Linked DNA regions of Homo sapiens: region 2 is linked to region 1. The links come from fine-mapping of genetic effects on gene expression. Tissue or cell type: tibial nerve. Region 1 holds a variant in brackets; the other region holds the start of a gene. All regions are shown on one strand. Distances are from middle to middle.

Region 1 (5,221 bases):
CTGCTCTCACCTTCATGTAGGTTGCCAGGTTGGGGTTGTAGTCATAGAGAGAGGCGATGATATTGAACTTGATCTTGACAATGACGCCCTCTCCCAGGTTGTTTTCCGCTGCAATCTGAACCAGCAGTTGCAGCAGCTCAATCTGGGCAGCACTAGAGGGCCAGAGAGCTGGGTGAGGCTTTGGAGACAAATCACAAAGTCTCTCCCAGCATGCCCGCTTCGGATAACGCGCCCTCCTCATCACCCATATCCCTGCTTCTCCTTTATAAATTCCAAACAGAAGCAACAATAATCCCAACCATCCTGGAATGCTGTGAAATGCTTCACACCTACCACCATCCTCTGTTACCTAATAACTAAAGAAGGTAAACACTCTTTTACTTTTTTAATCTTAAAAAAAAAAAAAGCCAGGTGTGGTAGCTCATGCCTGTAATCCCAGCACTTTGGGAGGCTGAGGCAGGCGGATCACTTGAAGTCAGGAGTTCGAGACATGGTGAAACCCCATCTCTACTAAAAGTACAAAATCAGCCAGGGATGGTGGCGGGTTCCTGTAATCCCAGCTACTCAGGAGGCTGAGGCAGGAGAATCGGTTGAACCCAGAAGGCAAAAAGGTTGCAGTGAGCCGAGATCGCGCCAGTGCACTCCAGCCTGGGCAACAACGAGACTCCATCTCAAACAAAAAAAAAAAAAAAAAAAAAAAGAGGAGAACATTATCTCATTGTATAGATGGGAAAACAGATCCAAAACGTTAAGTGATTGGTTTTAAGTCACAAGAAGAGTAAACAGCAGATAATGGACGGGGATGCCCCAAGCATACAATTCCCTCTACTACAGCCACACACAGACCCTCCCAACAATCCCTTCCCCCAACCTCCACCCTCTGCCACCCTGCAATCCCACTGCCCAGGCCCACGAATCTTACCGATCAGTTCCCTTCTTGCCTCGTGCCTGTAGGATCTCATTCAGTTTCTTGATAACAACAGCATGGGTGATCTCAGTTCCCTTGGCAAACATTTTTGGCTTCTCCTGTATCAGTACATATCCCGTCATGTACATGCCAGCGGGAAACTGTCCTTGCCTTTTCCCCACAAGGGGACCTTTATGTCCTCCCAAACTGTTCCCCAATTCATTTTACCTCTGAAACCCTCACCTTAACCAACGGCACTCCGCCCCGGACCCTTTCCCACTCCCCGCCTTCATTGTCCTCCTCCTCCTCCTCATCCAGGCGCTTGGATTTCCTGTCGTGCTTCTTCTTAGCTTTGTCCTCCCGTTTCTTCTCGGCTGCCTTCTTGTCCTCATCTGTGGTGGGTGCCCTGCCGACAGACATGGGAGAAGATGACAGATCAGCCCCTCCCCACCTCTAAGGCTTCTTCCTCCCATCAACTTCCTCTTTTCCTCCAGCAGCTCCTGGGTCCAAGTTATGCTCTACAACAATGACCTAGAGGGCACAGTGAACCATAACCATAGCCATCTCTAACAAGACAGAGTACTAACCAGGCCACTGTAGACATATTAATAGAAACAACCTGTCAGCTAAGCATGGTAGATCACTTGATGTCAGGAATCCAAGACCAGCCTGGGCAACATGGTGGAACCCCATCTCTACTAAAAGTACAAAAATTAGCCAGGCATGGTGGTGCACGCCTGTAGTCCCAGCTACTTAGGAGGCTGAGGCACGAGAATCACTTGAACTTGGGAGGCAGAGAAGGCTGCAGTGAGCCACAATCATGCCACTGCACTTAAGCCGGGGTGACAGAGCAAGACTCAGTCTCCAAAAAAACAAAACAAAACAAAACAAAAAAAAACCAACCTGTCATTTTGCTCCAAAGCTAACATCTACAGTTTTCCAAAGAATCCACAAACAACTTATTTTCTTTGATACCAGCTGCTTTCTCCAGACTGACCAACTAATCAATGAATCAGTTCCCCCAAATATATAAAAACATTTTTTTCTTTTTTACTATTCCTAAACTGTTTTATCGCTTTCTCTCCTCTCTTGACAACCGATTAATCTAAATT[C/A]TGAATTTTAAAAAAATGTTCATTACAAAAAAGGTCCCCACAAAACAGAAAAAGATCACCAGCTACCTTAAAATGGTCTTAGGCTACTGGATGTTGCCTGAAACCATCTCCAGACTTGAGTATGTATTTATGTAACAAAATACAAACCAAATGGCAAAGACAAATTACTTCAAACTTTGCACAGATACTGAAGAATAAATCTTTCCAGAAAGACTCAACATTTTTGAAAACTCATATGTAATAACCATAATCTACCATTTGAACATTTATAAATAAATTTCATTTTCACTGCTTAAAAGGTTTGAATATGTTTTTGGAATAGTCTATAAGTTTACCAGTTAAATTAAGTCTTCCCTTGCCAGAAGACCAATGCCATAACTCTCAACAAAAGTGTATGGACTGGCCAAGCACGGTGGCTCAAGCCTGTAATCCCAGCACTTTGGGAGGCCGAGGTGGGCGTATTGCTTGAGCCCAGGAGTTTGAGACCAGTCTGGGTGACAAGGTAAAAAGCCCGTCTCTATTAAAAACAACAACAACAACAACAACAACAACAACAAAAGCTTATGGATCTTTCCCCTGTACCACTGCAAGACTCTAATGATGACTCACTTTATAGGTAAAATCCTTTGCAAATATGCAAAGCATGTTCATTAAACTAAAACCTCTTGGTCCAAACCATCTGTATAGCTCTGAGATCAGAAGAACTAAAGCTATTTTTTAAAATGAATGCTTCAAAAGAACTTAAACTTCCTTGGCTAAAGTATTACTTCTAGCACTAAAGATAGTATGATACACACCTCAAAAGGGAAATGTACTATTGTATGAAATTCTAACTGAAAGACCTAAGACTTGGCTTGACCTCTCCTATGACAGATTATACTCTGGTATATTCATATCTTGTTAGAAATTATCAGATAACAAATGTTTATATCCTCAGCTATATAATCAACAGATAAAAGCAACATTTCTAAACGAGTATTACCTCTACTTAATACATAGTTAAGAGACTAAAAACTCATTATTGAGAGACACCAACGGAAGTCAGGCCTAACTACACTGCAGAGGACCACACCATTTTCCCATGCCTTCCCAACCACAACTACTGATGGAAAGCCCTAGATGTATACCCTTGCTTAGGATCCTAACTCGGACATTCAGTCTCACTAGAGATCCTGGGGTTCACTTAAAAAACAAAAACAAAAACAAAAAAACGCCTCCAGAATCAGGTAACTCTTAGAAGTAGACAGCAGCTCTGTAAGAGTTCACAGGTCGCTGGGCGCAGTGGCTCACGCCTGTAATCCCAGCACTTTGGGAAGCCGAGGCAGGCAATCAAGAGATAAGGAGATCGAGACCATCCTGGCTAACACGGCGAAACCCCGTCTCTACTAAAAATACAAAAAATTAGCCAGGCGTGGTGGCACGTGCCTGTAATCCCAGCTACTTGGGAGGCTGAGGAGAACTGCTTGAACCAGGGAGGCGGAGGTTGCAGTGAGATGAGATTGCACCACTGCACTCCAGCCTGGGCAACAGAGCAAGACTCCATCTAAAAAAAGAAAAAAAGAAAAAGAGTTCACAGGTCAATCATGACATCAGGTATAGATGAACTTCCCCCTAATACCTTCAGATCACCATAAGACAACAGATGGCCTTATCCCACATCAAAGAGGCTGAAGCTCATGAGAATAAACCCACTCCTTTACAAGCTTGTTTTGACCAAAAGATGAAGGCTGAGAAATGCTGATGATGGAAAGGGTATATTTAGACTGGCTGAATCTGGAGTTGCTGAAAACCCTTACTGGCAGAGGGCCTATCGTGTTTTCTAGAGCATCCACCAACCCTGGGTGGCATACTCAAGGAGAGTTAATATCAGAGTTTACACAGAAAAACGGGCAAACAGAATCCACTGTTCTGTGGTTTTGCCCTCTCTCCTTGTTCCTCTTTCTCCTATATAAATCCTGCTTTTGCTCGGTTGGAAATTAATCTGAAAATCTGTCTCCCTTGTTACACAAGTGAAATAGTGTCTGTGAATTATTCTTCTACACTACAAAGCCACAAACTCTCAATGTCAAAAAGATTCTGACACTTGAAATTCTAACTTTATTTTCTCAAGGGTTTTCCTCAGAACATTGATTCAACTAATTTTAGACTATTCTGATTAGGTATACAAGTTAGTTTACAGGTTAACAAAAAAAAATTTGGCTGGGTGCGGTGGTTCACGCCTGTAATTCCAGCACTTTGGGAGGCTGAGGTGGGCAGATCACGAGGTCAGGAGATCGAGACCATCCTGGCTAACACAGTGAAACCCCGTCTCTACTAAAAATACAAAAAAATTTAGCTGGGCATGGTGGCAGGTGCCTGTAGTCCCAGCTACTCAGGAGGCTGAGGCAGGAGAATGGCGTGAACCCGGGAGGCGGAGCTTGCAGTGAGCCGAGATTGCGCCACTCACTGCATTCTAGCCTCGGCAACAGGCTAGTGTCTCAAAAAAAAAAAAAAAAAAATTCAAGAATAACCTCTAAAAGCATAGCACGTCTAACTCCCAAACCAGCAGAAAAAAACAAAATGAATAATAAGAAAATATATATAACTAGAAACGGGGAAAAAAAAAAGAGGATGAGAAAATACATGTAGGCTAGGTGTGGTGGCTCATGCCTGTAATCCCAGTACTCTGGGAGGCTGAGGCGAGCGAATCATCTAAGGTCAGGAGTTCAAGACCAGCCTGGCCAACATGCTGAAACCTCATCTCTACTAAAAATATAAAAATTAGCTGGGCGTGGTGGTGCTCACGTGTAGTCCCAGCTACCCAGGAGGCTGAGGCCTGAGAATCACTTGAACCCAGGAGGCAGAGGTTGCAGTGGGCCAGGATTGCACCGCTGCATTCCAGCCGGGGCAACACAGTGAGACTCCTTCTCAAAAACAAAAACAAAAAACACACAAATAAAAGAAAAATAAAATACAGGCTGAATATCCCTTATCTGAAATGCTTAGAACCAGAAGTGTTTCAAATTTCAAATAATTGCATATATATAATGGGGTATCTTGGGAAGGGCTCCAAGTCTAACTATGAAATTTGTGTGTTTCATCTACACCTTATACAAACAGCCTGATGGCAATTTTACATAGTATTTTAAATAATTTTGTGCATGAAACAAAGTTTTGACTGCAACCTGTCACATGAGGTCAGATGTGGAATTGTCCACTTATG
Region 2 (5,221 bases), 450 kb after region 1:
GGTTGTCACAGTGTATCTTTGGAACTATGAGTGAAGCAAAGGTAATATAAAAAGTCCCCCCTCCACCCTACATTCCTCCCACCCACCGTACCTTCTCTGGGGGCAGGATAATCCGACAGGCCATGTCCCAAGTCAGGGAGAACATGACAGGCATGAAGTGGGACACAAAGGGCTTGTGGCGGCCACCTTCCTCCTTGCTGAGGATGTAAACCTGGAGGAGAGCAAGCAATGACGGTGAGCTGGGCTTGGCTGGAGGCTGGGGAGAGCTTGGCTCAACCCTGCCCACCGTCACCTGGAGCCCTCACCTGGGCCTCCACCTTCTGGTGGGGCTTGATGGAACCTGGCTTGACCATGACCAGGCCCCGCCGCAAGTCCTCCCGCTTCAAGCCTCGGACCAGGGCCCCGAGGTTATCTCCGGCCTCGGCCCTCTCCAGGCTCTTGTGGAACATCTCAATGCCTAGGACGGAAAGGGAAAAGGAGCAGGGAGAAGGAAGGCGAATGTGAGACAGAGGGAAGGCACAAGGGATCTGCCGGGGTAAGGCCACCCTTCAGCCAGGCCCTGCTCTCCAGACTGGCTTCCCAAACCTGTCACCACAGTGCGGATGTTCTTGCTATGTCCTAGGAGCTCACACTCGTCTCCCTTCTTTAAAATGCCACGCTCTAGTGTACCTGTCACCACGGTGCCACGGCCTGGGAGGGAATAAGACAGGATATCAGGGACCCCGAGCTAGGCTTCTGCTAGAGAGAGTGCGTGGGAACAGACAGAGTCCTCACCAGGGACGGAGTACACCGCCTCCACAGGCAGCAGGAAAGGCTTCTCCAGGTCCCGGGCGGGCACTGGGATGTAAGTGTCCACAGCATCCAGTAGCTTCTGCACAGACTTCAGGCCTAACTCAGGGTCCCGACCCTGTTGAGGGGAAGTGCCAGGACTCTGAAATCCCCATTCTACTTCCCTCGATTATCAAGAGCCACTTCCCAGACACAAAGCAGAGCTCTGGGTGCCCATCCAGCCCCACCCTCTGCAGCAGCTGCCCTGCCTGACCCCGCGTTCACCTCAAGGGCACAGAGAGCAGAGCCTACGATGACTGGGGTCTCCTCCCCTTTATAGCCAAACTCGGTGAGCAGCTCCCGGATCTCCAGTTCCACCAGTTCCACCATCTCAGAGTCCTGGACAGCGTCAGCCTTGTTCACATACACCACCACATGCTCCACCCCAATCTGTAGATGCCAGAGAGACAGGGACAATATACAGAGGGGCCCAACTCCCCACTCTTCCCTTTTGCATCCTTACCCAGGCTCTGAGTACCTGTCTGGCCAGTAATAAGTGCTCTCGGGTCTGGGGCATGGGGCCGTCATTGGCTGCTACCACCAGGATGCAGCCGTCGAGGGGTGCAGTGCCTGTGATCATATTCTGGAGAGGAGAAGGAAAGGAAACAGCCAAGTTCAACGAGCTCTTCAGTTCACATCCATATAGCCAAGTGTAGCAGTTAGAAACTCAGGCCCACCTTTCTCTACCATCTCCTCACCACCCATTCTGCGTGGCCAAGACCACAAACCTGCCATCTCATACCCAAACACTGAATATCTTAATCTCCTCCCCACAAGCCTAACATTTATCCTGACAAGAGGCAGCTTCTGGCCCTGTCTCCAGTGTCCCAGCAACCCTCACCTTAACATAATCTGCATGACCCGGGCAGTCTGTGTGGGCGTAGTGGCGGGCGGCAGTGCTATACTCCACATGAGCCGCATTGATGGTGATACCCCGAGCTCGCTCCTCCGGGGCATTGTCAATCTCCTCGTACTTCTTGAACTTAGCCCCACCTCCCTCAGCTAGAACTAAAGGAGGAAAAGAACACACCTCTCAGCTAAAGTTCCAGTGCTAGAGGCAGAGCTTAGACCACGCCCCTGAACCCTCCCACCTAAATACATAACCTCCTCCAATCTCTAACTCTTCCAGCAGAGAGAACTGTGGGTCAGAAAGAAATGTTAGAGGGCCTTAAGGGTCTGCCCTGTGACTTCTTTAGGGTACAGCCTCTGCTTGCAGAGCATTCCCCACGACTTTGTGATCCCCAAGCCATTGGTGGATCACAAAGTTCTTCCTGTTCAGGAGAAATTTGTCTCTTGCATCTCCCAATCCACCTGTCGCACAAATTCGGGCTCTTGGGGCCACAGTAAACTCCTCCAGCAGACACTCTGCTGGCCTTGCCTCCCTGGCTCCAGGTCCCATCAGTAGATAGGGCGCTGCTGGACGCCCCAACCCCACTCACTCTTCGTGATGGCTGCAGTCAGCGTGGTCTTCCCGTGGTCCACATGGCCGATGGTACCCACATTCACATGTGGCTTGTCGCGCACGTAAGTCTTCTTGGCCTCCACGGCCAGGCCGCGGCACAAGAGAGGCAATGCCGGGGCTTTCAGCAGCCGCAACAGACCCTGCAGCAGGAAGGTCCGGCCGGCGGCGAGACCTGCCGGGACCGAAGCTTGGAGTCAGGCAGGGAAGGGGTCAGACCGAACCCAGCCACCTACCACTCCCCCAAAGTGTTCCTGGGCCGCCATCGCCCTCCCTGACCACTCACCGCTGAAGTGGGGCGTCGCGCGCAGCAGGGTGGCGGCCGCCATTGTGGTCATACTCGCGCCCCGGTAACCGGGGAGCCGGGACCAGGAGCCCGAGCGCACAGAAGAAGAAGGGCGCCTGCGGCTGGAAGGCACTTCCGGCGGAAGTTAGAGCTGGGAGGGCAAGTCCGGGCCCCTCTAGCCGCCAGTGTCTATGGCCGTCTCAGCCGACGTCGGGCGCGCGGCTGAAGACGTCATGGAGGGGGCTGGTGTCTCGAGGGCGGAGTATGATGGAGAGGTTTTCCACCACTCGCGCCTCTCGGGCTGAGGGGCAACGTAGTTCTCTCTGGCGGTCGCAGGGGGCACTGAGGAGCGTCCCCTAAATCACCGGCGCCGCGAAGGCTCATGGGCGTAGTAGTTCTCAGGTCGGCGGGCTGTGGAGGTGATCAGAGTGGGAGTCAGGCGGGCTAGGCCGGACCCGGAGGGAGGGGCTCGGGCTCCGGGAGGCAGCTGCGGCTCCGACTGCTCAGGAACCTCCTCCTGGGCCCGGCAGAGAGAGACCCCGAGTCCCCCGGAGTCCGACTCGCTACGCGGGTCTTGCGAGATATCTGGCCGCCTCTGCCGCAGCTGGAGGTAGGGGACCAGGTCCTGGACGCCTTTCGGGGATGGGGTGAAGTGTGACCTCCCTCTTCGCTGAGACTTTGTTTTCTAATCTGTAAAATGGGAATAGTAGTATCCACTTCATAGGGAGAGCCTGACATCTAGCCCTGAGAGGAGATGAACTGGGTAGGAGTCAGTGTTGGGCCCTGTGAGGTCAGGCAGCTTGCGGGGACCCTGTACTGCTAGACCTCACAGGGCCAGAGCCCACAAGACAGACAGCTTCGCTGCCCACCCCTGTAGTCCCTCAGCAGCCTAAGGAGCAGTTCCGTTGGGCATCGCCCCACCCATCTAATTTTGCAGATGAGGAGCCAAGGATGAGGAGCCAGCTAGGGGAGCCTTTAAGGGGAGCCTGAGTCTCCTTTAATCTGTCGGTGTCCCCAGCACCTAACAGGGTGGAGCATGCAGTGAATGTTGAATGAATGGGTGCAAGGGTAGTCAATGTCCCTTAACTTTCACATCCATCATCTCATGGCAGCTTCCACAGGGCACTCCAAAGTGTTAATTATGGCTGCTTAACCCTGGCTAATGTTTCGGAACTCATCAGATCCTGAGACTCAGTGGACAGTGTTTGTTTCAAATAGATTCCCTAATTCCTCCCCTGGAGGTTATGATTCCGTGGGGTCTATGCACAGACTGGGAAGCTATATAACAAACACTCTTCTAAAACTGAGAAGAGGCTGGGCACGGTGGCTATAGTGCCAGCCTATAGTCCCAGCAGTTTGGGAGGCTGAGGTGGGAGGACGGTTTGAAGCCAGGAGTTCAAGACCAGCCTGGGCAGATTAGGAGACCCTATCTCTACAAAAAAAAATTTAAAATTAGCCAGGCACAGTAGCATGCAGCTATAGCCCCTCCTACTCAGGAGGCCGAGGCAGGAGGATCGCCTGAGCTCAGGAGTTCAAGGCTGTGGTGAGGTATGATCATGACACTGCACCCCACCGTGAGTGACAGAGAAAGACCCCATCTTTTTTTTTTTTTTTTTTTTTTTTTTGGAGACAGAGTCTCACTCTGTCGCCCAGGCTGGAGTGCAATGGGGCGATCTCGGCTCACTGCAACCTCCACCTCCTGGGTTGAAGCAATTCTCCCACCTCAGCCTCCTGAGTAGCTGGGACTACAGGCATGTGCCACCACGCCTGGCTAATTTTAGTATTTTTAGTACAGATGGGGTTTCACCTCGTTGGCCAGACGGCTCTCGAACTCCAGACCTCAAGTGATCCGCCCATTGTGGCCTCCCAAAGTGCTGGGACTACAGGCGTGAGCTACCACGCTCAGCCAAGAAAGACCCCATCTCTATAAAAATATTTTGGCCAGGCGTGGTGGCTCACACCTGTAATCCTAGCACTTTGGGAGGCCGGGCGGGTGGATTGCTTGAGTTCAGGAGTTCGAGAACAGCCTGGGCAACACGGTGAAACTCTGTCTCTACTAAAATACAAAAAATTAGCTGGGCGTGGCAGTGTGCACCTGTAGTACCAGCTACTCAGGAGGCTGAGGCAGGATAATTGTTTGCACCCGGGAGGCGGAGCTTGCAGTGAGCTGAGATGGTGCCACTGCACTCCACCCTGGGCGACACAGCGAGACTCCGTCTCCAAAAAAAAAAATTTTTTTTCAAATGAAAACTCAGAGGAGTTTAGGAAACTCTGAACTAGAGCTTTATGATGTTCAGGCATTCCTATTGTTTCACAATCAGCGCTCCCAGTGCTACCCTGGGTAGTAGGAACTATTATTTCCTCCATTTTGCAGGTGTGAAAACTGACGGTCAGGGTGATTAAGGAATCCACCACCACTAAACCCCAAAAAGTGTGCACACCGCACTGTCCTTTTTTTTTTTTTTTTTTTTTTGAGACAGAGTCACACTCTGTTGCCCAGCTGGAGTGCAGTGACACGATCTCGGCTCACTGCAACCTCCATCTCCCAGGTTCAAGCGATTCTCCTGCCTCAGCCTCCCGAGTAGCTGGGATTACAGGCGCCTGCCACCACGCCCAGCTAATTTTTGTATTTTTAATAGAGACGGGGT

The links. PIP is the estimated chance that this variant, and not a neighbour inherited with it, causes the effect.
Region 2: TUFM starts here. The variant in region 1 is the best candidate, but not a certain one, in a credible set for the expression of TUFM in tibial nerve (GTEx, PIP 0.88).

What each region holds. Positions count from the first base shown.
Region 1 is chr16:28,390,830-28,396,050 of GRCh38, forward strand. EIF3CL (eukaryotic translation initiation factor 3 subunit C like) reads right to left here. Exons shown (of 21, transcript NM_001317857.2): 9 at 1,151-1,313; 10 at 923-1,026; 11 at 11-152. MIR6862-1 (microRNA 6862-1) reads right to left here and starts at 222; the gene lies at 153-222. The variant C/A (reference allele first, on the strand shown) is at 2,020.
Region 2 is chr16:28,843,645-28,848,865 of GRCh38, forward strand. It overlaps TUFM (Tu translation elongation factor, mitochondrial), which reads right to left and starts at 2,704. Exons shown (of 10, transcript NM_003321.5): 1 at 2,574-2,704; 2 at 2,268-2,462; 3 at 1,670-1,836; 4 at 1,307-1,411; 5 at 1,054-1,218; 6 at 775-907; 7 at 586-690; 8 at 306-457; 9 at 92-211. The coding sequence starts at 2,625. MIR4721 (microRNA 4721) reads right to left here and starts at 363; the gene lies at 275-363. It also overlaps a transcript of SH2B1 not described here. RefSeq lists an enhancer at 2,566-3,055.